Linked DNA regions of Homo sapiens: all the other regions are linked to region 1. Evidence: fine-mapped expression QTL. A gene starts in region 1. Each other region holds a variant in brackets. All regions are shown on one strand. Distances are between the middles of the regions.

Region 1 (8,105 bases):
ACTATATAGTAAGTGTTAGGCACTTCTTATTTATCAATAATACTGGGTCCAGGTTGACATAGGAAAAATCCACACTTAATACAATACCTTATATTTAATGAATGTATTTTTTTTTTCCTTTAGAGTGATGACTTCACTCTGGGGAAGAGTGAGGCCACATCCCTGGGTTTTATTTATACTCCCTTTCCTTTGCCCAGAGGAAAGGAATTGTTAACACACAAATACAAGAGTACTGACAGCTCATGTCATGCTCAACTTTATATGTCTTAGAGTGTCCTGAACAGTAAGAATTCAAAAATGAGATAAATCAATGTCTTTTCCTAGGTCAAAGGCTGGTGTAAGAACTACACTTTTCCAGTAGATGGCAGTATTTTCATTCACCAGCTTAAGTTTTGTTTTTTTTTTTTGTTGTTTTGTTTTTAGTTTTACTATACCTTTAGTAAGCTGCAGGTGAAAATACATGTTAATGAAATTTCTGGTTTTTTCACTTTCTTTTAAAAAAAATTCACTCTTGGGAGCTTCCAAAAGCCCTAGAACGACATCTGCTTTGCCTACAATTTATAGCAAGGTATATACCGAAGTAGACCATACTCTCTAATCCTCCCTATTTCCTGATATAAGTTATTACTAAGAATTAGCTAATTCATAGTAATCTCTTGGAGAAAATCTATCAAGCCTTTCTGCCTCTACAGTAACAAAACAAAACAAAAATAAAACACTGACTTCAGGTTTCCTGTTTTCTAAATAGGGCAAAATATTCATTAAATTAAGCGGATACCTCACCTGTCTGGTTAATAATTAACTTTTAAAAAATCCACATTTTTGCAGCTCGACCTCGACAAGACCTTTCAAAAACCCTAACAGATGGTTAGGTGCTATCACGTGTCTGAAACGAACTATACGCTGCAGAAACTAAATTTGAGGAGGAAGGGAAGAAAGCATTTAAATTCCAGGGACATATGCCGGAGTTGGAAAACAAAAGTGTTAATTAGTGGAATAATATCTCAGATACTTTCTCTTCAAAACAGTGGATTAGCAGGAGTAGGAAAGGCTGGGTCTGAAACACGCGTTTCACTGCCTTCTCAGAATTACTCCCGTATAAACAAAGCCTCAAGTTGCTGGAGGGAGCAGTGTTTCCTCTGAAATCACGGAGATAGCCCAGATTTAGTCATCCAGTCCTTCTTGCGAATATTCAACCCATATCAGGAGGTACAGAGGTTTTTAGGGTTTAGGGTATTTTTAACCAAACCTTTACTTTCAAGACTAGCAGAGGCACTTTCGCAGCCCACCCTGCGCCACTCAGCCTCTGCGCTGCGCCCTCCTCGCCTCTCGCGCGGCAAGGACCTGAAGCCCCGGTGTGGCCGCGGCCCTGCGCACTCTCCAGATCCAGGTGAAGGTTGCGAGGCCTGGCGACGCCTAAGCGCTGACAGGTGGCCTCGCCCCGCCTCTTTGTCGCCCAGGGCGGCGCTCGCCTCCGCTCCAGGCCAGAAGCCGCAGCCCGCGCGCCAGGCACAGCTCCCCCGACCGGTCTCAGGAGTTCGGCCACCTCCCCGGGGAAGAGTGGGACTCAGCCAGGCGCCGGGCCGGCCTCTAGGAGCCTGCGCCAGAGCAAAGGGCATCCGGCACCCGACCCGGGCCAGGCCCTTGGACTAGGGCGGCACGGAACCTAGCGCCTGGGCAGGTCCAACCCTGCGCACTGCCCCTCAGCCTCGTGAACCCTTCGCCTCCACGACCCCCGGAACCCATCCCAGCAAGTGCGGCAGTGACCTCGGGTCTCACCGCCCGGGGGCCAAACACCTCGGCCACCCCGGGGCCCCAGAAGGGCCGAGGGTCAGCCGAGCGGACGAACCACATTCCCAAGGACAAGCAGCGGGTGGCAGCACCGCCCCCGCCCGAGCGCCCTCGGGTCCCTTTCTGCCGGGGCTCCAGTGGCTTGAGTGTCCCGACCCCTCCAGAACACGCAGGCGGCCGCAGGAAGAAATTCACCCGGACCCGTCCTCTTCCCCGAACTTCTTCGTTCCTCTCGGAGGTTCCTTCTACCCGACCCCTCTGCGCCACCAGCTCCTCCCACTCCGCTCCCCTCCCCTTTTTCTGGTCCCCACTTAGGAATCCGTCCCCCCGCCCTGCGCCGGGTCCGGGGTTCCTCCCCCCGGCTCCCCCCGCGTGCCGTCGCCGCCGCCCGGGTTCCTCTCCCCCCGCTCGGGCGCTCCCTGCCAAGCCCATGATGTAATGGTGTATGTTAATCAGTAGCATGTGGGGAGCTCCGGCTCGGGCGGCTCAGTCCTCCGCGAGCCGACACTGGAGGCAGCAGCAGCGGCGGCTGCAGCGGCCCCGACTCGAAGCACCGCACTCTCCCCGCGCCGCCCGCCCCGACGGCATGGCCCGCGGCCGGCGCTCCGGGCGCCCCCAACCCCGCTGAGAGCCGCCGCGGCCCCGGACCCGCGCAAGGGCCCCCGAGCCGCCGGGATGAGCCGCGCCGAGGTGAGCGCTCCCTCCCTACGGCCCTCGGCGGGGGACCCGCGGGTCACTGGGGGTCCCCTCCCCGGGGGCTTCCCCCTCCGCCCGAGAAGTTCTGGGAGCCGGAAGCAGCGTGTTGTTGGAAGCTAGCGGCTCCTTGAAGGCTGAGTCGCTGGGTTCTCCTCCCCGCCGGCGGCGGCCACGAGAACCGGGATGGGACTGGGGGAACCCCCGCAGCCGAACTTTCTTTGCTGTCGTTGGGGGGCGTGTGCCTGCGGCGCCGATCCGCATTCCCCGCGGGGCCGCCCCGCTGGCCGAAGGGAGCAGCGCTGCGGACCCCGGCCGTCCCCTCGCGGGGCGTGTGCCCAGCGCTGTGCCGCCCTCGGCCTGCGACGCGCGGGCGAGGCTCCGGGCCGGACAGACCAGCCCGTAGGCGGCGGCGGCAGGATGCCTGCCACACACGCGCGCACACACACACGCACACGCGCGCGCACAGTGACCGCTCCGGCCGGAGCAGGCCCAGGGAGACCTCCCGGGTGGGCTGGTGCGGCGCGGCGCGGGGGAGCCGGGGCTCTGGGTTGCGCCGCCGCCCGCTGGGCGCGGAGCTTTGGGTGGAGAGAGTTTATTTTTGTCTCGAGCTGCTGCCGCGGCTGCTCACGGCCTAAATCCAGAGGGGCGCCTGGCGGTGGAGATGCTGGCTGTTGCTGTAGATGGAGCTGCAGCCGCTCGGCTGCTTCTCTGGGAGGAGGAGGAGGAGTAAGAGGAGGAGGAAGGAACTCGGGCTGCCGCTGCCTCCGCCTCTGCTTTGCATTAGCTCCCACCCCCACCCCCGCGCCCCTTCGCAGCCGCATTGCAAGTTTTCTGCGCGGGGAAGATCTGTTGCTGGTGCTGGCGTTCTTAAGCACGGCGCCCGAGGCCACCCCAGGCGGGCCGTGAGGGGAGCACCAGCCGTTGGCAGCGGCAGCAACAGGAAGCCGCGGGGTCTCCTCCCGCACCTGGGAAGCAGGCTTCTCGCTGTTACCCGGTGGGGAATAGCCCATCTCCCACATCGGGTGCGGAGGGGGCGGAGGGGGCGGCTGGATTTCGGCGAACCCAACCTTCCGCGGGACGCCCCCTCCCCTGGCCCCAGCACCCTCTGATGCCCTCGTCCCCCCAGGGCGCGCTCCTCCGCTAGCCGAGGTCTCACTGCAGCTCTTTCTCTCCTTCCAGTGGTGATCGCCGCTCGGGAATGCGGGCGTGAAGGGTCCGAGTTGCCGCCCAGCGGGGAGGAGACCCCAGGACGCCGGAAATCACCATCCCAAAGCTGCAAGAAGGGGGGAGAAAGCATTCTTCATTCAGTTGTGTGCCTTGTGGGGGATTTTTAAAAAGTCGTTTTTTTTTTTAAAGAAACATTTCCGTGCTACTGTCTGTCATCGTCTCTGGGGAAATCAGCCAGAACCACCGGAACGTAACTGAAACCAGACAAGAGAGGCAGGAGCCCAGGCAGTACCTGCAGCGTCCGGGCACCAGAGCCACCTTGGAACAGGAACGCGTCTCCGGCCGCGGGGCTGCGGCTCCGCCAAACTTTGGGGCGGGCGGGGCGGGCTGGGGCGCCCAGGGGGCTCTGTAGACCGAGGGCGGCCCCCTAACCATGATGTTTCGCGACCAGGTCGGGGTGCTGGCGGGCTGGTTTAAGGGCTGGAACGAGTGCGAGCAGACTGTTGCGCTGCTGTCGCTGCTCAAGCGCGTGAGCCAGACCCAGGCCCGCTTCCTCCAGCTCTGCCTGGAGCACTCGCTGGCCGACTGCGCCGAGCTGCACGTCCTCGAACGCGAGGCCAACAGCCCCGGTAAGTGTGCGGCGGCCGCCGCCGCCGTCCCGCCTGCCCAACCCCCGCTCCTCCCTCCGCTTCTCTGCCTCGGGCCAGGCCGAGGCCAGTCCCTGCCAGCCGCGCCGGGACCTGGACGGCGTGGCCCCGAGGCCCTCGGAATCCACCCCCTCCGGGTGTCCCCCCACTACCGCCCCCCACCTACTTACCTCCGCCGGCCGCTTTGGGATTTTGCCCACTGTGAACTCCGTCAGCCCTTTCCGTGTGGTAGCTACGGTAGCATGAATGATTGATTTTTCTCTCATGCAGTTTCCTGGGAAATAAGTAAGTCAGGTCACGTAGAGTCTGGATTTTCTGGGTGTGTGTGTTTTTTCCTTCCTCCTCCTTCTTTTGGGCAACGTGGCTCGCTGGATTTCAGCAACACATGATAGATGCCCGGGACTGCCCTTCAGAAGCCAAGCTTGGATAAGGCTGTGTGAGGAGTACATGAAAATCCAATTTTATTATTCATTTTTCCCCACAGATATTCTGGTTTTAGAGCTTCGTCTTCAGAATAATATGCAGGTGACGCTAGAGACTAGTAAAATGACATTTGCAGCATATATATATATATATATATATATATATATATATATATATATATATATATAATGCGGTTAAGCTTACTGCTCGTGACATTATCCATATTGATACGGATCTTGTAGAAAAAAAGGGTCTTGGAGAAAGGACAGGCATGAAGTGGGTTACTTAATGCTTTTCGTTAGGAAACTTTACTGAATAGAACAGAATCGTTTCATATTACCCTGCTAGTATTTACAGACACCTCAACTAGTATGGAAAGTGAATATAGTCGAAAGGTCCAGCAGTTTCCTATTTGCTAGCGTGGGTGGTGACAGACTGAAATTATATCCTGGAGGGTAGGAGGAGGCTGGGGGATGGGGGGAAAGTCTGATGGTTGTGATTTTGGATAGGGGGAAATTCTTTAGTTCATGCTGCTGCAGGAGGGTGAACAGAGTCCCCAGTGTTTATGCAGAGAAAAGAATGCAGGGTCCTCTTCCAGCTGTTCCATGTTGGAGCTGCGAGCCTGCAAAGCTCAGCAGAGGTCTGGGCTGCCATTTGATGACAAGGTCCAGTCCAGGGCAGTGGGGCCTGGGAGACACTAAAGTGAGTGTGCCTTCAGAGCAGCAAGAAGCGAGCCGGCCTACTCATTCCTCCTCCCTAGTATGGTGTGCACGATGGTGAAAACACTAGAATGGGATGCTTCCATATATAGAATCATAGGGTGGAAGTGACCGCTGGAAATCTTCACAGTTCTTTTCCTGACCAGACAGGACTGCACCCGAAAGATCCTGCATGGCCAAGTATGGAGGGCCACATTGAGGGAGATTCCATTGAGCCCGAGCCTCCCAGCTCACACCAGGACTCACTGGGGTGGCGATGACAGGGCCCCCTTTGGTTGAGCTCCACGTTTATAAATAGCTGGAGGGCCAGCCTCCTTCACTGGGGTGTGGAAGCATAATTGGGTAACTGATGATCCACCCTCTTTGCTTCCTTCCTTAATTTCAGCGGGAAGCCTGGTTTACCTGCTCGGTTTTACTTTCTCAGGTTTGACAAACAAGGTTATATAAACTTTTGCATTTTATAGATTGCAGAGGATTTACGCAGAGTCATTTAGGTTGAATGCTTGATTTCAGTGCTGGTAGGGACTGTTCAAACTCATCTTTAGGTTATTCAAATGTTGGAGCAGCACTTTTTCCCTTTGAGTAATGGAGATGACTTTTCCCAATAGAGCAGCCACCAGGTTAGTAAGTAAAACAGTTAAATGTTAAAATAAGGTGGCCTAATTTTAAAAATCTCATAATTTAAAAAATTGAACTGTGAATTTTTTGAAGTCACTTGGCATTTTTTTTCCCTTAAGACATGTTTGGCCATACTTATTTGTATAAGATACCCACCTGTTCATGCTGCTAAATGATGTAGATATACAAAATATAGAACCATTGTGTAAGATAGGAACTGGTCTCCAGTTTCTGGATTAATCCTTCGCCTAGACGTTTTGCCTGCATGGAAATCTTTGCAGTTGTTTTGTTGTGTGGCCAGGACAGAAATTTCTTAGGAGGTCATGTGATGATTTGGTTTACTTTCGGAGTGTGGGGATCATAAAGAGCATCAGGAGTTGTCATAGCATACCTGAGTCTGTAGTGTGGCTCTCTGCATATCCGGAAACTAGCCAAGAACCAGGAAGGGGGCAAAAAGTCCACTTCGCAACCAGAGTAGATAGCATGAAAGTCCAAGAGAATATTTCAGGCCCTCTCTCAGAATGTACTTGCTCTTATTCTAGACACAATCCTAACATTTAAAAAATTTGACAAATAATCCGTAGTGTATTGGGGGTAACACATTTAGAATGGGGTGAGGGACTGCTGTAATCAGTAGTAAAAAGTGACCCCTGACAGCCTGACAACTTGGAAAGAGACAGAAAAACTGTAACTTTAGACAAGAATTGGGGCAGAAACTTTGAAGGCTTGGGAATATTAGGGTGGGAACCCTCAATTGACCTTGTAGGCACCACTCTATAATAACATAAACAAATAATTGCTATTTACTGTTGTTAACGGTGAACTATGGAAATAATACATTTTTAGATACACTCTTTAAGAAGAGAAGGAAATGTTCAATATACTTTGGAAATGTTTACACCCAGAATAATTAACCTCTGAGCTGTTTTGATGTGTAAGGCTCTTACCAATTCAGAAAACTAGGCTGTGCAGAATGACTCATTCATTGGATTGCTGAGATTTCCTGTACCGAAGTCATCTTGTATCACTTTATTTTGTAATCATCAATTTAAAAAACCCTCACATTTTGTCTAGTGTTTAGAGATTTTAAAACTTGGTAAATGGGAACCAAATTCATATATGGGACTCGATCTCAGTATAATAAAAAAAAATTACTAGTAATAGTATGAATATATCTCTCGTTTTATGCAGGACTGATTTTAAATAGTGAGATATCCTGCGCATTAAACATGATTTATTTGAGATTTGTGGGATGTAATTTGGTGCTTTCATTCTCTTAAATTTATTGAGAATCTAGTGATTCACTGGTTCATCCTTTGCCTCAGGCTCATGGTCATTGGAGATTCCAAGAAATGATTGAATCAGTCCCTATGGATTTATTTGTATGTGTTTTTCTTTTAACAGATATGGTCATGATCAGTTCTCTAGTACAGTCTTGTTCCCAGGATCCTTATAACCTTAGATAAGTCTCTTCAGCTACTGCTCCAGTTGAACATTGAGACTTCTGGCCAGTCTCAGTTCCAGGACTAGCAGGTCATTTGATACCTACAAGTAGCAAAAATGCAACCCACTGACTTTACCTGAAGTTTCCAAAAGAAAAATAGACTTTGTGGCATTGTTTATTTATGGCTTTTGTCACTTGGACTTGAAATATATTTTTCATAGAGATTTATAAGTTAATCCACAAAAACGTAACCCACAAAATATACACTATTTGTGTATGTTTGTGGTAAGTAAATGACAATAAATTCCTATACTTATAGTTAAATACAAGAGAAAAGGGTATCCAAAATGGTGATGTTTGAGACAAAAAAATAATTGTGGAGCTTGAAGACTCTCTCTCAGAATGTAATTACTCTTATTCTAGACACAATTCTAACTTTTTTAAAAAAATTGATAATCCATAGTGTATTGGAGGTAACATATTTAGAATGGGATGAGGGGCTGTCACCCTCACCCCATATTTGTGTAAACTTGCTGTCATTAGAGGGTGGGTATGTTGGTTCCATGATTTTTATGGTTTTGGTTTCTGTAGTACAAGTAT
Region 2 (8,105 bases), 130 kb after region 1:
CGCTTGAACCCAGGAGGCGGAGGTTACAGTGAGCCAAGACCATGCCACTGTGCTCCAGCCTGGTGACGGAGTGAGACTCCATCTCAGAAAAAAAAAAAAAAAAAAAAGAAAAAGAAAATAGGGGGAGGGTTTATATCTTTTCAATCCTTTGTACCTTTTCAAAACACTACTTGCAGCTGTAAGGGCTCATAACTCCAGACTGGGTTCCCCATCACAACTGGTCTAATCCATACCACTAGCAGGGCTCCCACCAAATTATGGGGATTCTTCTCTGGTCACCTCTAGCTCAAGAGGGTACCTTGGGAGACAAACTCAAGTGCAGGTGCCAACACAAGAATCCCACCATTTGCCATGTTGGTATTTTTGCCCTGATTTTTCAGGTGCCCTGGGCTGAAAAATATCTCTACAAATAAATACATGGTGTGTGTGGTTATCCACTTTTGAGTTGTGCAGAGTTGCACTATATTTAGAAGCTTTTAGTACATGATGTGTCTAGGATTGACTTTGTAACATTCTTCCAAGGAGTCTTTGACCATGTAAAACCCACCAATATTCCTGCCTTTTAGCACATTTATTTCACCAGTACTTCTTCTGTGTGTGCATTTAATTCCTAGCCATTTCTTGCATGAGCAAATTGCCTAAATGCGCTTGTGAGAAACCCTTTTATGGCAAACGTTATTAAACTGAAAACAAGGGTATAATAAAATAGCAATTTAAGAGTAATTTACTAACAACTAGAGCCCTTAAGCATTGACATACCATTGTGTAGCAATAATACCAGACTTGGTATTTAAACACACTCTTTGTCACTCCAAAAATCATTGGGACAGTTTCCTAATCCTCATGGTCTTTAATTATAGCTCTTCTAATTTTTTTTACTACTCCTATGTCACTGGTTTACAAATTATAAATCATTAACTTTTATCCACATTAAACATCCATGTAATAGAACTGTTACATCTCTGCTCCTTATACAGAGAAATAACAAAGAAAATATTCAGAAAACATAGTAGAGGTGAGCTGACATCATCAAACCTTGAAGTTCTTGCACTTAAGTTTTCCACTGTGTCCTGAATCAGGTGATATTGGGGTGAGTAATGGTAGAGACTGGATCTCAGAAGTGATCAATTAATTGAAAATTCTGAGGATTCCTGCATCTTCCCCAGGGAGGAGAATTTGTCAAATGCAAATCTCAGCAAAGATTCTTTGCTCTCTGGAAGATAGTGTGGATGCCACAGAGGCCAGTGGGCAGTTGGACAGGACCTAGCCAGTGTGACCAAGTCCCTGCATGTAGGGTCTGGCTTCCGTTTGAAGGTAGAGATGTTCACGCTTGTCAGCACCCTGGGGATACTCTCCTGAAAGACTGACTCATGCTAACTAGAAAGCAGGGAGGTAGACACTGCAATGCTGGCTGGTTAATTTGCCACGAGGAGCCATCATCAGAGAGACCAGACGTACTCCAAGTCCATATAATCAGCACACATTGTCCTTGTCGGCAGGCCTCCACAGGAAGCCAAATCATAATCAGAAATTATGTATTAAGTTGCCCTGACAAATCATTATCACAGATTTTGGAAATACCTCAAGTCTCTATGATCAGTTCATTCTCTCCTTGAGGGTAGCTGGGGAGCTAAATCATGGTCCAAAGGTTGTTTTGTGAGTGGATAATCAGGACGGGGGCGCTGAGGAAGGGAAATGTTTAGTGGCAACGGGAACTTCATGGGTCCATGCCAGAATGGGAATGGCTTTGCCAGAAAGACTGATGTATTCAAAACCAAGTGGCTAAAACTTCCTTTTACCTAGAGGGACAGTTGGATAGTGTATTAATTAACTTAGCAGCTTAAAACAATAAACATGTTACACAGTTTCTGTGGGTCAGAAATATGAGAGATTCTGGCTTAGGATTCCTCAAAATGGTATGTGGGCTGCAGTTGTCCAAAGGCTTATCTGGGCTAGGAGATCTGCTTCCAAGATGGTTCCCTCATATGGCTGGCAACTTGGTGCTAGGTATTGGCACGAGGCCTCGGTTCCTCACTACAAGGACCTCCCCATTGGGTTGCTTGCATGATGTCACAACATGGCAGCTGGCTTTCCCCAGAGTGAGTACTCGGAGACAGCAAGGGGAGGCCATAATGCCTTTTATAACCTAATCCATAAAGTCACATACCGCCATTTCCCCTACATTCTATTTACTGAAAGTGACTCACTGAATCCAACCTGCACTCAGAAGGAAGGGAATTAGGCTCCACCTTTCAAAGAGGTGTGTCAAATAAATAGTTAACATATTTTAAACCACAATAGGTATAACTTACATTGTCTCTGTAACTCCTTTTTATTATACTTCTGTTGCTCACCAACTGTGATTATCCATGTACTCTATTAATACATTTATATAATGTTTATAACTATTACATATTTGTATGCATTTATATGTAATTCTGTATCATATAACTATAGAACATCTAATTATGTTATAAATATCAATATATTTGGCTTATGGCCACGCTGTTGTAGCAGGACAGCCATTATGTATCTAATATCAAATTTGCCTACCTCCATTCTGCCACTTCACTAGCAGGGGGCTGGGGGCAAGTAACTTGGCCCATTTGTGCCCCTGTGCCTTCATCTGTAAAAGAAGGCTAGTAATAGGACCTACCTCATAAGCTTCTTGGGAGGATTAAGTGAGTAATTAAATGCACAGGGCTTAGAAGAGTGCCTGGCACTTCGAAAACATTCAATACTGTTGGCTCTCAGCAGTGGCAGCTGGAGTAGTAGCAGAAATAGTTTGATCCAGTAGGTGTAGTTAGCCCTCAGAGAGCAATCTGATTTCTGTGTTCCCAGTGGTAGTAAACAAAAGCAATACTTGTCTTCCTGGTCCCACCATCCAAGCCCTGTCCTGAGGATAAAGGGACCGGGGCCAGCGGCCTCTCGTTTTCCTTCCTCTTTGCTATGCTTGTTCCTCCTCTGAATCCCAGGTTAATCCACAGCAGAGAGCGGTTACATGGAGATAACATGTTTCGTTTGTACTATGACTCCTATTTATGTTTTGTTTTTGTTGCTGATTTTTTTTTTTTTTAGGTTGACCTTTTGTGGAAGGGTAGAATGTCCAATCAGGGAAATGACCTAGCAGAAAGCTAGGGAGTTCCTCAGCCTCATGAATTTTTTATTAGAAGTCATTCCTAATTTTTATCTTTAAATGTACATTTTCAAGGATGTACACTAGCCACCTCTGATTACAGTAGGCTTACAGCATAACCCCTTTTGCTTCTTGGCCCCTTTTGCTTCTTTTCAGTGCCTCTTGGGCTTAATGAATAGATTTTATCTTCATGCTAAGCACATTCATCATTTAAAACATGCCTGGTATTTGCTGAAGATGAATTGAGGAGAAAGTTAGAATTGGAATTTTCTTTGCCTCTCAGCGCTACTTTAAAAGGGAGGCTATACCTAGTGGAATGTGTGAGAGTTGTCTTGTGTCAGGTGGCAATTAGCTAAATATAGAGTCAGGGAGCTGGGAGGGACTTGCTGAGGTC[A/G]TCTGTGCCCTCCTGCCAGCCTTCCCCATCTGAATGTCTCCAGCCCTGTGCTCAGCAGCTCAGTAGTCACCAGCCACATAAGGCTTCTAAGCTCTTCAGCTGTGGCTGATCCAAGTTGAGATGTACTGTCCATGATAAAAAATACATTGGCATTTTAAGACTTTTAAAAGATTTTTAAGACTTAATTCAAAAAAAGGAAAAATGGCTCATTAATGATAATGGATAATGAAGTGATAATTTGATTATTTAAATAAAATATATCATTAAAATGTACATTACCTGTTTATTCTGTCTCTTCTTTAATATGGCTACTAGAAAGTTTAGAATACCATATATGGCTTATATTTTATTACTGTTGGACAGTGCTCCTCAAGATCGTCTCACTCTGTTACTGAATAACATTCAGACCCCAGGGCAGAGATTCTAAAGCCTTCCTTGGTGATTCTGAGTCTTTCATTATTCTGGCAATTCTGTTCTTCTCCACGTCCTATCTTAATCTCTCCTGCTTCGGTTTGGAGACTTCTACAAGTAGTTGACTCTTTGGCATCTCCTTATGAAATCCCACTTGAAGTGAGTCAAGCATCTCTTCATATTGTTGTAAGCACAGTAAACCCATTTTCTTTTCACCTTTTGACTTTCTACCTCCTTGATCATTTTTAGTGACTTCTCTTGGGTCATCTCTGGTTTCTCTATATTTTGTTTTTTAAAACTTGGCATCCCAAACCACCCACATTGCTCTAACATGATTCCAGCTATGCAGAGACAAGCTGAAGGAATTACCTCCATCATCAAGTACTTGACCAGCCCTTTTGCTACTTTACGTTATTTAATCCCACAGCACATGGAGGGGCAGATGCTATTTGGGGCTCAGAGAAGGTATTTGGGGCTCAGAGAAGTTAAGTAACTTACCAAGGTTCTACCACAAATTAAATGGCATGTCTGGGATTTGTGTCCAGCTTTGCCTGACTCCAAAGCTCATGCTCTTTCATTATATACCATGCCTCTTTTTTTGCTGGTATTTTTCTTGAAATATTCTTTCCCATAGTCTTGAGAAGCATTGCAGCACAGGCTGATGCATTTGTAGCTTATGGTCAACAGTGATAACTGGGCTTGTTTTGTTATGTTTGCACCTAGCTGGAATTGCTAAGCCCTTCTGCTAAATTCCAGAAACCCCTTCCAACCTTCTAGATATGGCATAAAAACCAGCAGGACTGTCCAGCCCTAGCCCTTGTAGGGTCATCAGTGGGCCAGTGTTGAGATCTCCAGGTGTCAGGAATGACTTCCCTGAAAATGAGCTTTCTTTCCTCTGGCCCAGAGCCTGTGAATAACTGTCAATCCCAAGACAGGCTATTTCTCAAAGGCTAATCAGTGAGAGGGGATGGAAAGGATCCTTCTGAGTGTGTTAAAAACAGATCTTCCCAGAGCTTGAAACTTGAGGACATTATGCTCAGTGAAGTAAGGCAGTCACAAAAGGACAAACACTGTATGATTCTACTTCTCTGTGGTACCTAGAGTAGTTAGAGTTTCAGTTTGAGAAGATGAAAGGGTTCTAGAGATGGATGGTAGTGATAGTTGCACACCACTGTGAAACGGTGAATTTTTTTTTTTTTTTTTTTTTTGAGACCAGGTCTCCTCTGTCACCCAAGCCCCAGGGTACAGTGGTGCAATCACAGCTCACTGCAGCCTCGACCTCTGAAGCTCAAGCAATCCTCCCACCTCAGCGTCTGGAGTAGCTGGATCTACAGGCATATACCATCACACATGGCTATTTCTTTTTTAATTATCTGTAGAGATGAGGTCTCATTATGTTGCCTAAGTTGGTCTCTAACTCCTGGGCTCAAGCCATCCTCCTGGCTCAGCCTCCCAAAGTGCTGGGATTATAGGCATAAGCCACCACCCCCAGCCTGTGAATGTTCCTAATGCCACTGAACATCCACTTAAATATGATTAAAATGATCAATGTTATGTGTATTTTACCACAATAAAAACAAGCTGATCTCTACATAAAGCAAAACAGCAATTAGAGGTGTCTCAGGAGCCAAGTCTTCGGTCCATTGCATATTCTAGCTTTGAGCCCATAGTCACTCTGAGTTAGCTTCTCATGAGAAAGGTGCAGTCTTACTGCACAGAGATGAGGGGAGCTCTTTTTTTCCCTGACAAATTTCTCCATCTAGGAAGTTTTTCCAATTTCACACAAATGCCTTTACCAGGATTTAAATCACTTTCAACAGATGTCTGGGGGAGGTGAAGCAGCCTCACCCCCAGGACTCTGGAATGGGACCTTTGTTCATACTCACTTTTCTATGGAGAGCTTCTTAGTCTTAGCCCCCTGTCTATCAGGGGGTAGGCTAGACCTTTCTCAGAAAGAAAACAGAGCTGCACATTGTATTTGATTGTACCAAAGTAGTTGTAGCTTTTTTGGAAACACGAATGAGAATTTGATTGAGTACTCAATATCTAAGAATGTTTGATCTGTGTTTCATTGGAGCCTCTGGCCCTTGAAAACCTGGGGTCAGTTAACCAATCTGATTCACAGGCTCTTTTGAGAAAATATAGCCAGACTATGTAGATTGGGACCCTAATCCATAAAAATTCTCTTTAGAGTATCTGTTTAGAGTCACTGTGGGTGTATTTGCTTATTTGCCGTGTATATTTCCCTTTTCAGGAATCATTAACCAATGGCAACAGGAATCCAAGGATAAAGTGATTTCCCTCCTGTTAACTCATCTGCCTTTGCTGAAGCCAGGAAACCTCGACGCGAAAGTAGAATATATGAAACTGCTGCCCAAAATCCTGGCTCACTCTATTGAACACAACCAGCACATTGAGGAGAGCAGGCAGCTGCTGTCCTATGCTTTGATACATCCAGCCACTTCGTTAGAAGACCGTAGTGCTTTAGCCATGTGGCTGAATCACTTGGAGGACCGCACGTCGACCAGCTTTGGTGGCCAGAACCGAGGCCGCTCAGACTCTGTGGATTATGGACAGACACACTACTATCACCAAAGACAGAACTCTGATGACAAGCTCAATGGGTGGCAGAACTCTCGGGATTCTGGGATTTGCATCAATGCCTCCAACTGGCAGGACAAAAGCATGGGGTGTGAGAATGGCCATGTGCCCCTCTACTCCTCCTCATCTGTCCCCACCACAATCAATACGATTGGAACCAGCACAAGTACAAGTAAGTTCCCCGGAATCCCTTTAACGTAGTCTGGTTTGGCGATTTGCTGTGTATGTGGCATGTCCTGCTGACAGTGTCTGCTCCATGCACCCTGTGACCCTGGGAGAGAAGGACTGATTGGAATTGGCTGTGGGAAAGGTCCTTTGGACCCCATATTTGTTGCTCTTTGACTCTGCAAAGATGAAAATACTTGGGAAGGTAAAAGTGACTGATGGTCCAAATTTGGGTTATAAACAGACCAAAAATAAATAGACAATAAATGAAAGAAGGAAACTTGCCGTTTCCACAATCAGAAATGCATTTCACCCATGTCTTTCACCCTGGGGTTTTGGATTTGCTGAGACACTGAGTTACTGTGTGATTCTCTAAACCTAATTCTAACCCATGGTTAACCAGGCAGCCTCATGGGCTTTGTGCTTTCTCTTTATTTTTTTTTTCCTCTTTCTTTCTCTTTATTTATTTATTTTTTCTTAAATTTCACCCTGGAATGTTTCCTCCCTTTGCATTTTCTGGTTTTAATCCCCAATTGTTGGGGCACTTTTTTCCTGACCAGTGGGAGCAGGTTTGCTAACTGAGAATGCTGCTGTGTGCTGTGGCCTGGTGAGAATGCCATGGACTTCTCTCGCTCAGTCCAACACCTTAGGAGAGGTGGGTCAGGAACTGCTTTGTGCGTGGGGAGAGCGGAGGACAGCCCTCTGCTCTTTTGACCACTAAAGCAAAGTATTGCACCCTCAGCTGGGCACTGGGGCTGGGAGTCCTCTCTGTGTCTCCCCACTGAGGCTGAGCAAAGTGACAAACACACCATTGGTGTCTGTATAAAGTAGCGGTGTGGAAGTGCACCCTGTCTTCAAACAGCGTTCCTTAATGCTAGTTTGCACCTGTCCATGAATGCAGTGGCAGTGCCAAGATAACTTTCTTGAAGGAATGCTTTTGCAATTAGACCTCGTGTGCCTGTCTTCATGCAGGAACCCCCAGTTAAAAGATATGAGAGGATTAATAATTGGGGTGCCGGCACAGAGACTCAGGCCTGTGATCCCACCACTTTGGGAGGCCTAGGCGGGCAGATCACTTGAGGTCAGGAATTCAAGACCAGCCTGGCCAACATGGTGAAACTCTATCTCTACCAAAAAATACAAAAATTAGCCGGACATGGTGGTGTATGCCTGTAATCCCAGCTACTCGGGAGGCTGAGGTTAAGGAATCACTTGAACCCAAGAGGCAGAGGTTGCAGTGAGATGAGATTGTGCCATTGCACTTCAGCCTGGGCAATAGCATGAGTCTCAGAAGAGAAAAAAAAAAGAAAAAGAATTGGCAGTGATGCCTTCTTGGCATCTGTTCCTACTTGGATCTTTGGTTACCAGGACTCTTTAAATGGCTTTCTCAAATAGGTA
Region 3 (8,105 bases), 160 kb after region 1:
TTCAAGTCCTATCATTCAAAGTTGAGTCTGACTTTCCCAAATTGTTCCAGCTCTGATCCACAACTCCCAAATCTAGCAATGGAGGCGGCCTGGTTTCTAGGATTGAAGGGAGAATTAGGACAAATGACCCCTTATTTCTCAACATTCCCTTCTTTGTGACACACTGTTTCATTCCAGAACATGTGTTCATGGCACAGATCTGGCAGGGTTGCTAGTATACTGAATGGCAGAATCAAAGTCCAGAACGGTCTTGGGCAATATCAAGCTGTGGTTCAGAGCACACATGGTGGCGTGAGACTGACCTGGGTTTGAGTCCCAGTTCCACTGATTACTACCTGTGTGACCTTGGAGAAATAGCTTAACCTCTCTTGGCCTTGATTTCATCAACTTAAAAAGGAGTACTAAGTGCCACCCATAAGCGGTTGTGAAAGTCCTCTCTGGGTTTACATACAGTCTTTTTCTTGAAGACATCCTTCTATTCTCCTACTCCCATCTGTGTTAGTTACCCTCAGTCTAGCTTTCCTAGTCTAAAATATTTGCTTCTGCAGCTCTAGAAAATTTTCTTGAATTTTCAAAATAATTTCCTCTCATTAATTTTCTTCCTCGCTCTTTAAAGAATTTCAGATTAGATAATAGCTCCTCTCTATTGATCTTCTAATCTCCTTAATGTTTCTTCTCCTATTTTGTTTTACTTTTAATCTTTCTGTTCTACTCACCAGGTGATTCATATAACTTGATCTTTCAAACATACTATGTAATTTTAGATCTCTGCTATCATATTTTCAAATTCCGAGAGTTCTTTTTTGTCTTTTTAAGGTTCCTTTTTGTATTGCATTCTGTTCTTGTTTCATAGCTGCCAAATCTTTTCTAATGTCTCTGAAGATATCACATTTGATTTTTGGAGTTCTCTTCTGCTCCCAATATTGCCTGTGTTTCTTGGAGTTTTTTCTCTTCTGTTTGTGTTGGACTCTGTCTCAAATAAGAAGCATTCCTCAGTTATCTGTTGATTCTTACTTTCCTTTTATTTAAGAGGAAGGGACCTAGAACCTTATGTGTGTAGATTTCACCACAGAGAGATCAGATAGGAACCTAACCTGGCTGTTTTTGTGGGACTCACATATATCACCATCTGCAATTCTTTTCTCATGGACTAGCCCATTACCATTAAAGAAACCCATTACCAGCCTCCTCCTGAGGGATATAAGCCTTACTGCGAGGGTCCTAGGGCCTGTTAGGAGTAAGGTGCTAAGATGACAGTTGCCTTGCTGAGCAGGGTAGAAGGGAGAATCTGAGGATCTCTCTGTACCTTAAACATAAATTCTAACAAACCTATTTTTTTTTCTGCACGTGAAACCCAATGCAAAAACAGGTTGTCTATGAATGGCTTAGCACCAGGTTCCCCAAACCACCAATTTCCAGCCCCTCCCTGCACCCCTGCCTTCAGAGGTACCTGCTCTCCAAGTCCTGAGCTTCATGGAAGTTCTACCACATAAATTGCCATGTTTTCCCTTGCTATGGGCACACACACCACCTTTCTCAGGTCTTCTGAGCCAGTTCCCTCATGTCCTTCTGTCTTCCAGCTTACAACAGTTTGTTGACTTCAAGTGGTCTGCTGATAACCTTTTCATTTCCTGTCATCTTCTCTCCTGCATTCTTTGTCCTCGTGAGTTTGTGCCTTTGCTGTCATTTTTGTGAGTTTTCAGAAGGAACAGAGATAACATTCGCATAAATTGGCAGTCTATTTTAATTGTCTACTTGTTTATTATCTATCTCCCCCACTAGAATATAAATTCTAAGAGGTCAGGAACCTGGTCTTGTTCACCATAGCATTCCATTGTCTAAAACTCTGGCTGGCATATTGTAGATGTTCAATAAATGCTTGTTGAATGAATAAATGAGTGAATGTGCACATCAATGAATGGCATGTATTTAGATCTCTTTGTGTAGTCCCTACGCCCCAATAAATAGTAACTATCTTATCCACAATTATTTCAATTTTGAGGGTTAGATAATGAAACCAAACTTTATGCTACTTAGAGCCATTGATTTTAAGTGGGGATAAATCTGTCTCTCTTAAATAGAAATCTTTAATGGGGAGTGTCTGAAATGCTTTTACCTCTCAAGAGCTTCCTCTTCAAGCTCTTACTTTTCTTGATAGTAATCTTCCCACCATAACTCTCATTATCAATAGGATGTTGCCTATTTCTAATAGTTAAAATGAGGGCTGCATTTGGAAGGTAAGGGGCTGCCTGAAGATCACGTTGCCACATGGAAGAAGACTAGAACTAGAGCTCAGTTCTTCTCATTGGCAATGGTACCTTTAGCCTGTCACTTTCCTTCTCTCGGTTTCCATTGTCTTATCCAGAAACTAGGCTGGAGAGAATGGAAAGATTAATTAAATGATCCCTGAAGTTTTTTTGAGGCTCTAAAATAAGAGATTCTGCTGTTCTGCTTAGTTCTAAAGTGCCAGCAAATAATAAATAACTATCTCTAGGGCCTAGGTCTTAGAAATAGTGACATCCTTGTGAAAATGCCCAGTCTTTTTAAATGACAAATTGGACACTGTATTATAGCATTTTGTAGATAAATGATGGCTTCTAGCAGTCTACATATAAATATCCCATTTGTAAACCTCTGCATAAATATATTTTCATAATAAAAATCACAGAAATAAATACAACCTAAACTGATTAAAAAGATTAAGTATTAATGGTGAAATAAGTCTTTCATGGCGACTTCAGCTTTGGCTGAAGAAGATGTTGCTTTTTCCAGTCCATAAACAATACTTCACATCAATGGTGGCAGTCCCTCTGACCAGTTAGGCAAAAATGAGAAGGTCCCATAATATGTCTCAGGTGGTGGACAGCTAATATGAGAAGGATAGGTATTCAGAGTGCCCAGACCTGGAAAATCCCAGCCCAGAGTGAAGATGTGACAGCTTTGGTTCTGGAACAACCCCACTGGCATACAGTTGTTTATTTGATGTCCTACTTCCTGCTGTGTTTATGCTGTTCAAGCTGTTGTACAAATCTATAGGCCTCAACATTTGGGTCCTGCAATGCATAGCTCTGGTGTTAAATGAGGAATTATCTACTTTAGATCACAGACTTTATTTTTTTACCCTTCTTTGTCAAAAAGATACTGATACGAAAACTAATGACCATTGATATGCTGTGACGGATGAAGACCAAAAACATTAGGGTTCTAAGTCTTAGCGTCAACATCAACTTTGTTAAGTGACCTTGGGCAATTGCCAGATCTCTCTAGGTCTTTGATTCCTTAACTGATAAAATAGCAAGGGGAGTGGATTAGATGATATTCATCTAATCATGTATTTAATGTTTCTTCCTGTTTTAAAGTTCTGGGATTTTGAGTTAACTCGGGGGTAAATACATGAGGGAGACAAATTGCAGTGTTACCTATACCTTCCAGTCTTCTGAAAGTAATGTTCTTGGAGGAAGAGATCAAGAAATGTAGCACCATCATTTAAATTCCCTCAGGACGAACTCTATTGGACACATAAACAATAGCAACAACTTCTACTTTCAATAAAATGTCGGCATTGCTCTCTGCCAATTACCTTGACAGCCTGACTCAAGAATGAAAAGCTCTATACC[A/G]ACCCCATCTGGTACCTTGTGAGTCAGTGTTCATTTCTGGGAGAACCATTCTTGAAGCACAGCTTTTCGTTCAGAGAGACATTATGGTTATCTTATATTTTTAAATAGAAAAAAAAAAAACCCATCTAGGTGTTTCTCTTAGGTCTGCTGCTCCTCCAGCATTTAATTTGAATTTGAAAGATTCTGGTTTGATTTTTTGTGTAGATGCTTGCCTACCCTGCCCTCAGAACACCCACAGAACAGCAGAACCGTAAGCTTTGTGCACCATTTGGGGAAAGCCCAAATGAAAAAGAGATGCTTTCCATGTGGTTGGGCAGGTGATTTCTAATTTAGTTATAGGGAATCTTTATGCTACTCAGAGCCATGAATTGTAAATGATTGCATGGAATAGCCAACTTGCAGACAGGGAAACAATATGTTTACCACAGAAGCAAGAATAGTTTTTTTGACTTTCATATAGATCCCCTGATACTGTCCCTCTAAAATGGAGGATTCAGAGAGGCATCTTGGTCCTGGTGCATTACCACCTCCTCAAAAACTTTCATTAGTCCTAGAAATACTGTGGCAAATTAATTGAAATTGAAATGACCTAAAATTTTTACATCCTTCAGCAATTCTTCACCTTCATGGAAAGTGTTACTTAGAATATTAACACTGCCTTGCGGCTTCTAGCTTCTGCGTGTTTCTGAATGATAGAAGGTGATGGCTTAATAAATGATAGAAAATACTGTTTGCATCTGTGCAGCCTTGTTTTTTATGAATGCTCTTTTTGGCATCAGTATCCCTAGCGACTAATACAGTACCTATGCAGAGAGATGCTCACTGTTCATTACATGAGTGAATAAATGAGGTTAGCTTAACTCTCTGGGAAGTTAACAATTAGCATTTTTTCATTTCATAAAGCATCTTCCCATACATCATTTTAGTTGGCCTTCATTGTCATCCTTCCTAGTGCTTAGCATATGCCCAACACCAGGCAGATGCTCAGCAAATATTGGATGGATGGATGGATGGAAGGAAGGAAGGAAGGAAGGAAGGAAGGAAGGAAGGAAGGAATAATGCAGGACGCATCTATTCATAGGACCCCCACAGCAACCCCGGTAGGTAGGTGGAATAAGGTATTACCATTATTGTAACTATTTTCCAGATGAGCATACTGAGGCCCTGAAAAGCTAGTGGACTTGTTCAGGATTTTGAATATCGATTGTTCAGAGTCAGGGTCAGTAGCTAAGCCCAGAGTTCTTTCTGCCATGAGAAGCAACACGGTGTCAGGCTAAGAACACAGGCTTGCAAGTGAGAGAACCTTGGATTTTGAACTCTGGCTCTTTCCACTGCTCAGCTGTCTGAGCTTTGACAAGTCAGCTATCCTCTGCACCTCAGCTTGCTATCTGTGAAATGGGGGTGGGAAGAGGGTAATGGTAGAATCTGCTTCAGAGAGCATTAAATGAGGATTAAATGGAACAACATGTTTACACATTTAGCCAAGAAGCCGACACATAGTCGGCACTGTCAAATGGTAGCTGATGATATTGTGTGCACTCTCCTGCGGCCTCTTTGGAGGCCAAAGGACTGGGAACAGTGGGCCTCACAGGTGGGTCTTTGGGTTGCATTTGGGAAAACAGCAGTACAATATCCCCAGCTCAGGGCAGGTAAGGAGGAAACAGCAAAAACAGAGTTCATTCATTCAGTTACCCTTCCATGAGATCCTAAATATGCAGGAAAAACCAGACATTAGGAGACCTGGGAACAGGGAAGAACGGTATAATTTGGTGCATTCCTTTCTCCAGAATCCAGCCCTTGTGAACAGCTGGCTTCTTTACCCTGACACCCTAACTGGCTGTTCTACTGGTATCATAAGGCAGACTTTAAAATATGGAGAAATAACGTGGGGACAATAATATCTCATCCAAATGAGCTGGGGTGTGAGAGAGAACCGCACTGCATAAATAGGCTAACAGCATCACAGGCAATTGGCTCTAGGAGGGGCTGAGAGACCATCCACTGGGCTGTAATGTCTTTTTCAACATTGTGACCTCAAGCTTTTAGGGCATGTCACATGGTGGGCACTCCACAAATATCCGATGAATGAATGAATTCATCTGCTCCAACCTCTTGCTTTGCATATGAGGAACCCAATGTTACCCAGACACGTAATAGGTTCTCAGCCTGAATTTCTTAAAATAATGGAGGTACTTAGAATCTTTAATAAGGATTTCAGTCAATCTGTATTGCTTACAAATGTCAGGACAAAGACAAGCTCTCATGAAGAGTTCTGGGCACTGAAATTTAGTGGAAAAGGAGGTGATTCACATCTCCTGACCCTCCATAAAATACACATGAAATGTGGACACTTAAAATGTGTGAGAGGAAAGGAAAAACCAAGTTGAATCTGAATCAAAGAAAAAAGATTCTTACCAGGAAAAGCAGAAGTTTGTCAGTATAGGTGAAGATTTTGAAAGAGCAAGGTGAAGTTTCTCTTCAGTATGACAGACCATGATGGAAAATTTACCTCTTGTAAATCTGTGAAACACTATCAAGTAATCAAGATATATTTTTCATGCCACATGTAATAGGCTGAAAATGCTGCATGAATGTCATTAGATTAGCTAGTACTTTTGAGATGATTTTTCCATTAGCAGTGTTGGTTTATACCAAGTTATTCTTACTCTAACAGCTAACAACTAATATTTCTAGAGCACTTTACAATATGCAAAACATTTTAATGTGCATTAAATGATTAGATTTTTTCCAATAATCACATAACGTAGCCTTTGTTATCTACTAATGGGGAAAACTTTAGGTACGGAAGTACAGAAGGGCCACATGACTTCCAACTCAAATCCCAAATTCTTCTCCCTTCAGCAGTCCGTTTTTGTTTTGGTTGATGCCTACCCCAACGTCAACAGAACAAGTATCAGCCAGCAAGAGCTGCGTATGTAGTTAGAGCATCTTAACCTTGAATGTACATACAAATCTCCTAGGGTCTTGTTAAAATGCAGTTCCTGGTTCAGGAGGTCTGGGGTGAAGCCCAAGAGTCAACCCTTCTAACAAGATCCCAGTTGATGCCAATGCTACCTGTCCATGGATCTAGAATGCAATTTTTTACCATTTGTGAGTTGGTTATGCTCTCACCAGCTGAATTTCCAGACTAAAAGAAAATGTGCCTGGAGCTTTCTGCAGCTGATTCACATTCAAATGGGGCCTGAGGCTGACCCCTGACCCTCTCTTTCCTACTTACAAGGGTGAAAATGACCACAACAAGAGGCAAGCACTATTGCCCAGGAGTCAAAATATTTTTCTGGGGAGTCTTTAGGAATTCCTGCCCAGGTATCATTTGGATTGGAACCCTGGTTCAAAATATCATTTACTTTATCTAGAGAGCAGTGCAAGAGTGATCAACCCTGAGCTAAAGAACCTGAACAGAATTTTGCATGGGAATCCAAAGCAAATAAGATAATCATTGATGGGAAAAGTGAGGGTATGAATTTTGTCTTTTAAAAGCCCCATGAAAACAAAACAAGATGCTCATTCTTTTGAGGCATCTTATTAAGACCAGCAGAAGCAACAGCCAATCTAGGGAGGTTTGGACTGTCCAAGATGTGGGACAAAGTTTGGGGGAAAGTACTGAGGCAGGAAGGCAGCCCAGTGCAGTGGTTCTTGACCCTGGCTATCGATTAAAGCCACCAAGGTGCATCTAAAAGTACAAATGCTCTGACCCTGCTGCAGGGATTCTCAGTGACTTATTCTGGAATGGGACCTGGGCATCGGGGTTTTTTTTTTAAAAGGCTCAAAGGAAGTTAAGTGTACAGCCAAGGTTGAGAACCACCGGTCTAGGAGAAAACTGTGGTAGGTCACAAGATGGAAGGTGGAGTGAAGAGTTTGTATTTACGTGTACAGATAGTCTATTACTCATTCAGGGTAACTGCATTCTATAAAGTTGTTGTGAACACTGAATTATTGAATATTGAATGATTGCTTCTAGAGAAAATACAGGGCTAGGTTCGGTCACATTTTTGTCAACTTATCAATACATAATGTTGTTTTATGTGTGTTTCTGTTTAAAGATAGTTTATTTAATGTATATTATTGATTAATTAATGTTGAACTCACAACAAAGAACACTGTAATTCATACCTGAATGAAGCTTATCACAACAGCCTTCTTTTTTTCCTTTTTTTTTTTTTTTTTTTTTTTTTTTTTTTTTTTTTTTTTGAGGTGGAGTCTCACTCTGTTGCACAGCCTGGAGTGCAGTGGCACGATCTCGGCTTACTGCAACCTCTGTCTCCTGGGCTCAAGCAATTCTCCTGCCTCAGCCCCCCGAGTAGCTAGGATTACAGGCATGCAACACCATGCCTGGCTAATTTTTGTATTTTTAGTAGAGACAGGGTTTCACCATGTTAGCCAGTCTGTGTCCAACTCCTGACCTCAGGTGATCCACCCGCCTCGGCCTCCCAAAGTGCTGGGATTACAGGGGTGAGCCACCACACC
Region 4 (8,105 bases), 220 kb after region 1:
GCGCAATCTCAGCTCACTGCAACCTCCACCTTCACATGGACAAGTTTTAGCTGTTTCCTGGGACCAGCCAGGAGACCCTTCAGGTGGCTATTGCCAGTGATGAGTAAGAAACACTACGAGGTGTAATACGCTCACCAGAAAACAAGTGTGGCGCCTGTGCGAATGGTCACGTTCCTCATGGAGGCAGGGCGTTTTCTCAACTAGATAACTGGTTTGGAAATTGCTTGGAGAGGGATCCTTTATTTTGGAAGCAACTAATTTCTACTGACCCAGGCTTAGTTGTCCTTGGGATCCAGTCAGAGAGGATCTTGGAGTGGCCCTGGCTCAACAGTAGGAGATCATGGAGGTTCTTTACCCCCTGGAGGGCCTAACAGAAAAGGGCAGGGAACCCCATAGCAGGCTTCAAAGGAAAACCTTCAGAAGGGTAGGCTGCACAGCCTTCTGAAAATCTCATTCTTCCCTTGCCCAAAGCCACATGCAAACTACCCTTGGTTGTGAACCAGCTGGATGTGAGCTGGGTCCAGTGGCACCTCACATGGCAGCATTTCATGGTGTGACTTACCTGATCACCACAGCAAACCTCCTCTAAGTACCAGCTCACAATTGGGATTCTTCTGCCATAAGCACGCTGCATATATCTGGGAGCACAGGGCTCCAGGCTGTTATTTTTCATTTCCTTCCGGAGAACTGCCTTTAGAAAGAATAGAGAGTTATTGGTGCACTGGGTCCAGTGGGGTGTGGAAGGGGCTGCCATGCAGAGGCAGAAACCAGAACAGGGACCCAAGTACAGTACTGGATAAATATTTCCTCCATGTCTTCTAATAAATCAAGGCAGACATCCCTGTTCAGGACTGGCAGACAATGGGTAGGGAGATTGATAAATAAATCAATTCTGTCATAGCCAAGAACCCAGCTGGGCCCACAGCCTCCTGCCTCTGAGCATCAACTTGGGGCAAGATGGTACAATATCATCTTATACCATGTTGTACCCATCACTTTTTGTGAAAGCGTTGGTCCCAGAGGACCTCCACAGGCACTGACCTTCTGCAGGCTTAGGAATGTTAGGAGGCCACCAGAGAAAAGGTGCGTTCCCATGGTCAACTCAGGGATGCTATTCATTACTCCTGCCACCCTCCATGGCCATCTCTGCCATCCTCAGCTTGCCTGCTGCCCCACCCCTCTGTTTCCCTGCCTGTGCCGTTTCTTTCCCTTTTGTTACCATCCTCCCCCTTTCTTCTTAGTTCTCTTGTCTTCCTTTCTTCTTTACTCATCTCATCACAGCAGACCAGGTCCCACTGCTCTGTCCCTTTTTGTCTTCCCTGCTTTCTCTCCTCCTAGCAACCCTGCTGCTCAGTGAACCAGACTCCACACCTTTCTAGTTATCCAACAGAGTTGCCTCCGCTGTCATTGGCAAAACGGGATTCTATAGATTTTTCCTGGAATGCCCCAGCCTGTTTCTTATTCTAAAGTCCTAAAGAAATTGGCTCCTTACCCTCAGTGCCTTGGAGAAAAAGCACTGCAGAATTGCACCGTGGGTGCCACACATGTGAGACCCAGCAGGGATGGACGGTTACTGCCAAGGACAAGCCCTTTGGGCTCCTCAGGTGGATGCTGCAGCAGCACCTCATTAGGGATGGGTAGCATTCTCTTCCGGAATCTTCTTGACCCTGGGCCTGAGCACAGGACTACTCCATACGTGTGGGACTTCTGAAAAGATACAATTAATGTCTCAAGTCAGCCTAGACCTTGGGGATTCCAAAACTAGCGATCCTTACTGAATACTGGAATACTGGTCCTCAGAGATGCCATCTGAGCTGAAGAAACATGCCTCCTTTGGGAAAGAGCAGAGGAGGCTCAGTTAAAGAGGGGTCTTTCCTTTTGCCTTCCTGAAGACTCACATCTCCATCTGCCTGGTCTGTGGCCACGAGGGGCAGGGGCCTGGGATAAATGAGATGGGCCCTCAGGGTTAACAGGAGCCACAGCAAGGGTTGGCCTGGTGGTTTATGTTGGTCTGTGGGGCAAGAGCTGCCCGAATGCCCCTCTGGGGCACCTAGCCCCATACAGCTGAGGGTTCCTAGCCTGAGATGGAAGCTGTTTTCCACCCAACTGGTCTTTCTGTCTTATACGTGCGGCGAGATGGCATGGATCTGTTTTTATCAAATACACAATTAAAAAGTCACACTATTAGGAAACTCTGCAGTGTGAACATATGGGCTTCTCCCAAGACTTAGAATTTTTCAGAGCCACTCGGAGTGTTGGGGGTCACGGCTCCCCAGTGCATGGAAGCAAAGAGCTGGGGAGAAGAAGCGAACACCCCCACTTCCCACCTAAAAGAGCAGCCACGAAGGTTTGGGGATTCTGGAGCGGAGAGCCCTGCGTTTCTCAGCCCCCTTTTTGGAACACGCAATCCCAGGCTTGGAAAATGGCATTTTGCTGCGTGTTGGCAAGAAATCCTGCAGCTGAAACACTTCTCTCCAAATGTCGAGCATCTTTATTTATCCAAATCTCTCCACAGTGTTTGTTTAAAGGGGAGCGCTGGAGAGTAAACTAAATCTTACAATGAGCATATGGATGGCTATAATTGCTGAGGTTTGTTTTTTTTTTTCATATTTGCTAACTCGCTATATATAAAATTGTGTTTCTATTTTATAGATTTCACACCCTGAAGACTGCTAATTTTTGCATGCATATGATTTTCACATGAATGGATGAAAATACTAAAATCTCTTCCCCCTGGAATTGTCTAATTGCCCCGACCCTACTCTAACAGCAACTAGTGGGTGGGGGCGGTGGAGACTCCTGCCATTCTCTGTGGCACCCCACTTCCCTGGAAGCTCAGTCGGCCTCCGTCTGCTCACGTATTGGCACGGTTGTCTTCCAAACCCATCGATGCCGGAACATGGGTCAGGAAGAACACAGTCAGCTCTCTGGTGCTTTCCATAGCGTTCCTTTTTGCCAGGCTTCTGAGATTTTTAAATAACGGAAGCAACATCTGCCTCTGAATTAGCTGACAATGGGAAACACACATTGCAGAGATTATCTTAATGTATAGCAAATCAAGGAAAACAAAACTTTGACTTAACCATTGGTTTCAGCTTCCTATCCCACCAAGCCACCAACTTCGTTTCACTTCTCTTTCTTCTCTCTCTGGCCCCATGTGCTCCCTTGGTGGAGACATGAAGGAGCAGGCAAGTGGCCTGCAGGGGGACCCCGGGATGCTTTGCCCACTTGACAGGTAGAGGAGCTAAGGCCCTCAGCATGGAACAGGTTCCCAGGCTCACAGAGGAAGGTGGTGGCAACACGGAGACTTCTCGGTCACCTGGAACACACCCCGCTGTGGACACCCCCTCTGGGACTTTTTTTCTGCCTCTCCCCTTAGGATTTTGCAATTCTTTTCAAACCAGTGTCACAAAACTTTAAAAAAAAAAA[A/C]AAAAACAAAAAGGATTTCACAACTCTTAGCTGTCAGAGTTTCCTTCTACTTCTTCTACTTTCTCTTTTTCTTCGCTCAGTAGACATGTATGAGGCAGAAGGCCAGGGCTGGGCGCTGTGGGAGATTCAGAGAGATAGGGAAGCATCATCACTGTCTACAAGGCACTTCCAGGTAGTTGAGGACATTTAAAGTCGCCACTGGATGAGGCCTGCGGAGGTGCTGACAGTGAGGGCTCCAGCAGGTGAGAGGAGGTGGCTCCCAGACACTGCCTCCTGCTCACAAGAGGCGACATTGGAACCTGGGGAGATAGAGGGGTTCCAGGTGGTAGAGGGGAGATTGTGGTGAGAATGTGCACAGCACTGTCGGTCAGTGGGAGCCGAGCCCCTACTGCCTGCAGAGTGGGTGTCTCAGCCCTTGATTCTAGAGGCCCTCGAGGCTGAGTGTGTTGACAGTTACCTGCAGTTGCTGTGGCAGGTGGCTGAGCCCCGGCTCTGGAGTCAGAGAGGGTCTTGTCCCAGCTTTGTGTTAGTTGGCTAACTTTGATGAGTGACTTCACCTCTCTGAACCCCACTTGGGCTTGTTGGGCAGATTAAGGAGCCCGCACACCTAAAGCCCCCCACGTGGTCTCACACTAAGAGGTGCGTGCTGGGCCCTGGCTTTCCTCTCCCACTCTAGATGCATGCCAGGCCCTGCTCTAGGCACAGGGGGCAGAGCCATGTTCTGCTCCAATGAGGTGAGCACTCAGCGGGGTCAGGGGAGGGGGACAGTAGAAAGTGAATACAAATATCAAATATGACAGCTGTGGGCGAAGGCTATGAAGAAAAATAAAGCAGGGGAAAGGGATAGTGTGGGGGCATGGCTCATACAAGGAACAAAGTCCTTTCCAAGGAGATGATAGAGCCAGAAATGTGAAGGCAGGGAGAGCCATGGAAACCACCCCAGGGAACAGCGGTGCAAAGGCCGTGAGGTAGGAGGGGGCCTGGGGCAGAGCAGAGGAAGGAGAGAGCTGTATGAGGGTACAGAGATAACAAGGGCCTGGATCATGCGGGGCCTTATGGGCCAGGGCAGGAGGTTGGCTGTTACTTTGATGGGAGGCCGCTGGAGGGTTCTGAGCAGAGGAGGCACAGACTGTGACATGACCAGCTATTTTTAGTCTCCGTTTTGTTCCAGGTTCCCAAGTTCACAGTGGACTGTGTTTAACAGACCTTAGAGGTTGGTTGAGCCTGAGTGGAGCCCCTTCCATGCCAGCGCTGACAGTCCCCAAGTCCTCCCAGGGAGGTACACCAGACCTTTCTCCTGAAGGTGGAACCAGGTGGCACCCTGCTTATCTCCTCCTTGTCACCAACATAACCCTTTATCGCCTGCAGAATTCCAGCTTCCCGTGACCGAACCTGACATCAACAACAGGCTGGAGTCGTTGTGCCTCAGTATGACCGAACACGCCCTGGGAGGTGAGTGTGTTCTTCCTGCATGTCCCCATGTCCCTGTTACCGTGTGCCTGGGAGAACTGGCCATCTGCTGTCTATACCGTGGCAGGAGCTCAGGAGAATTGGGGGAGGACAAGGAGGGGTAGGCAGGGGACAGGGAGAAAGAGTGGCCTTAGGGTACTGTTGGACCATTTTCCAGCGGCACCATGCCAAGTGGCCAGTGCCCTGTTTCTCCTCCTTTTCTGGGAGGTGAGTCAGGGACCTGGCAATCAAAGCTGTCCCTCTGTCCCCAGAAGCTCCACCTCCCAGTGCACATGGGAATCACACCACAGCAGTTGTCCCAGCCAAGTGCCAGGCCTGGAGGAGTCAGGGACATGAGACATGGCTTTTAGTAGGAATATCCCGCACAACACTGGATGCTTCCCTTCTCTGCACTAGATCCCCCAGCCTGGTCCAAGCATAGCCCAGCTTGCCTTAGAAATATAATTTTTGAAAAACAGAAAACCCAGCTTGTTTGTGTATCTCCCAGTTGCAAACAACTTTCTTGACACCTGGAGCCCAAAGCAGGCTGAGGTGTCCTTTCCTGTGTGACAGGGACAGGTTGAGTTAGAGGCGCCTGCACGTCCACTGCCCAAGCCCAGAATGGGGGCTGTGCTGTGCAGGGCTGTGGCCCCACAAGCAGCTCACAGAAGCATCTGTGCTCCCCCGTGTGTTTGGCTGGAAGCCATGCTTGGTCACAGCAGCCCTGGGAGGCCTTCAGCTCCCTCCTGGTACTAAGCGGGCACCTTTCTCTGGGCCTGGATATTTATGATGCTTGGCAGGCAGAGGAGAGAAGAGATGTCTGCCATTTCCTGCCAGCTTCCTGGGAGGCTCTGTGCCACAGAGACACAGAGAGGCCTCCTGTGAGCCTTTCCAATAGCCCTATCCAGTCTACACTTGCTCTTAGCCAAAAGGCCGAGAAGCGATAGCCCTATCCAGTCTAGACACACTTACCCACCCAGAGAAGGGCTGTCTGCACACCTAGAGCCAAGACGTGCGCCACCTGGCAGTGGTGGGGAAAAGACTGCCATCCTCTGCTGCTTCAGAGAGCCTTGTCCTCCAGACCTAAGGTTGTTAGATTTTTAGTCTCTGCAAACACAATCTTATCCTGAAACCAAATATGAAATAGATCAGTGCTCTGCATGGAGCAGAGTGGTGGGCCCGGGACCACACCCACCTGACCTTAGCATCAGGGGGAGCTGAAAGCCTTCCAAGGGCATCACAGAGCTTCACCAAACAGATGGTGGGAAGACACAGCCCCTTCTGTGACTTCCCCCAGAGCTCTATAAAGAGCCTCATTTGCGAGCCACTGCTCTCTGCCTTGGCCATTCAGATCTCAGGAACATCACTGGGCCATCCCTGGTACCTCTGGCAGGAGGTGCTGCCAGCTCATCTTTACCTCATAGAGGAGACTGGGTCAGCAGCCCCCTAATGAGAAATGGGAGACAACTCAAATGTCCACCAAAGGATGAACATGGCTCAAAAAAATGTGGTGTATCCAAACAGTGAAAGAGCATTCAGCCTTTAAAAAGCAAAGAAGTACCAACCTATGCGATGCAGTGGATGAATCTTAACATTATGCTGAGTGAAACAAGCCAGGCATAAAGGACCACAGAGCGTATGATTCCATTTATGTGAAATGTCCAGGATAGACTAATCTACTGGGACAGAAAGTAGATGAGTGGTTGCCAGTGGCTGAAGGGAGGAGGATGCAAATATTCTGGAATTAGATAGTGGTGAGGGTTGCACAGCTTTGCAAATATACTAAAAACCACTGAATTGTATACTTTCAAAGGGTGCAATTTATGATATGCAAATATTTCAATTAAAAGTAGTAATGACAGTCTCCCTGGGGCCAGAGTTAGGATAGCAGCTGGTGAGTGAGTCCCCTGAGCTGGCACCTGCCAGAGCTCTGACATGGGGAGGGAAGCCCCTGTGCTCCCCTGCTCGACAGTGGCCAGCTGGGTGGGGGACTGACTCAGTCTTTCACTGCTTTTGACCAAAGAAAAAGGAGAACTGACCTTTTCCCCCAGGGCTTGATACATCTCAGACAATTGGCATTTTGGAGGCTCATATCAAACTGCTAAGTACCAACATTATCATCATTAGCAGCAAGAATACCAAATGCTCTTTATTAAAGGAAGGTTTTCATTGAAAAGACTTCGTTTTTTTCAGTCTGTTCTGTTTTTACAGAAAACCTCTCTGAACCGATGGGTTTTTTGCTAATGTTTTCATCTTGTTAATCTCCTAAGCTTTTTTAGTGCTGTGTTTTTTCCCAATGATCTCCTCTGGTGGGAAGCCTCGTAAGCAGTTTCCTGAGCAGAGAATGCAAATTAAGTTCAGGGTGGCCTAGTTGGGCACAGTGGCAGTGTGCCCTCCCAATATGACAGAGCTTCTCTGCTGGCCAACCCCTTCCAGGTGCCAGGAAAGATGGCCTTGCTGGAGACAGTATGCTAATGAGTCAAGTCCTTTTATGGGAAGAGGAACGGGCAGGGAGAGGAAAGCACAGTGAAAGAGGTTCCAATGCTTGCAACTCAGGAATGGAGAAAGAGAGGCTCACATCTGTTGGCCTCTAGGATTGGTGATCTGACACCACTGACACACTCAGGGACCATTGCTTCCTTTCTTTAAAATCTCCCCTAAAATCATACAGAACTTATATACAAGTGCACTGGGTCTGTTTGGACTATTACTTACAACAGCATGTGAACCTACAGTTATCTCAAAAGTTTCAACTGAGGAAGTGCTTCTCCTCCAAGGCCCCACTGGCAAGAGTTGCCAGCCTGGCTCCACCCACAAGGAAGCCAGGAACCAACCCCCTGTGGTGGCCTCAGCACGCCTGTCACTTGGGTCCTCCAGCTTTCCCTGGAACACACTGCCACTCCCTTCTCACACCCAAGTTCTGCCAAGCAAATAGAGATGCTGCATCTGGTGGACCAGTTCTGTAATATTGGGGCTTGGACTGGGACATCAGCAAAGCCAGGGAGGCACCCCACAGCCCTGTCTCACCCACATTTAGTGGTCACTGAACGCAGTTATTCCTACCGCCTGTGATGGCTAATCCATGCCTCTCTCTGCTCACTGGAAAAAATCCTTGTCAGTTCTGGCACAGACTGTTATAGGGGCCTCTTAACTGGTCCACCTGCCACCAGCCTTATCCTTCCTCAGGTTATCTGATGCAGCTGCCAGAGAAACCATTCTAAAATTAA

Which allele goes with the higher level. Positions count from the first base shown, and alleles are read on the strand shown. Sizes are in standard deviations (SD) of each study's normalised expression. Not every link is listed here.
As copies of A replace C in region 4, the expression in monocytes after triphosphate RNA of the gene that starts at base 3,299 in region 1 goes up (moderate effect, 0.55 SD a copy in Kim-Hellmuth 2017).

What was found.
Region 2: its variant is fine-mapped to the expression of SAMD4A in cerebellum (GTEx, PIP 0.96).
Region 3: its variant is fine-mapped to the expression of SAMD4A in whole blood (TOPMed, PIP 0.99).
Region 4: its variant is fine-mapped to the expression of SAMD4A in monocytes after triphosphate RNA (Kim-Hellmuth 2017, PIP 0.95).

The regions. Positions count from the first base shown.
Region 1 is chr14:54,563,830-54,571,934 of GRCh38, forward strand. It overlaps SAMD4A (sterile alpha motif domain containing 4A), which reads left to right and starts at 3,299. Exons shown (of 13, transcript NM_015589.6): 1 at 3,299-3,509; 2 at 3,667-4,283. The coding sequence starts at 4,088. RefSeq lists silencers at 1,321-1,370, 1,381-1,450, 2,081-2,210, 2,771-2,820, 2,941-3,130 and 2 more.
Region 2 is chr14:54,695,867-54,703,971 of GRCh38, forward strand. SAMD4A (sterile alpha motif domain containing 4A) reads left to right here. Exons shown (of 13, transcript NM_015589.6): 3 at 6,196-6,714. Among named protein-coding and RNA genes, the nearest start is that of SAMD4A-AS1, 12 kb to the left of the region's middle. The variant A/G (reference allele first, on the strand shown) is at 3,531.
Region 3 is chr14:54,719,379-54,727,483 of GRCh38, forward strand. All of the region lies in intron 3 of SAMD4A (sterile alpha motif domain containing 4A), which reads left to right. Among named protein-coding and RNA genes, the nearest start is that of SAMD4A-AS1, 36 kb to the left of the region's middle. The variant A/G (reference allele first, on the strand shown) is at 3,618.
Region 4 is chr14:54,779,740-54,787,844 of GRCh38, forward strand. It overlaps SAMD4A (sterile alpha motif domain containing 4A), which reads left to right. Exons shown (of 13, transcript NM_015589.6): 12 at 4,798-4,881. Among named protein-coding and RNA genes, the nearest start is that of MIR4308, 94 kb to the right of the region's middle. The variant A/C (reference allele first, on the strand shown) is at 3,430.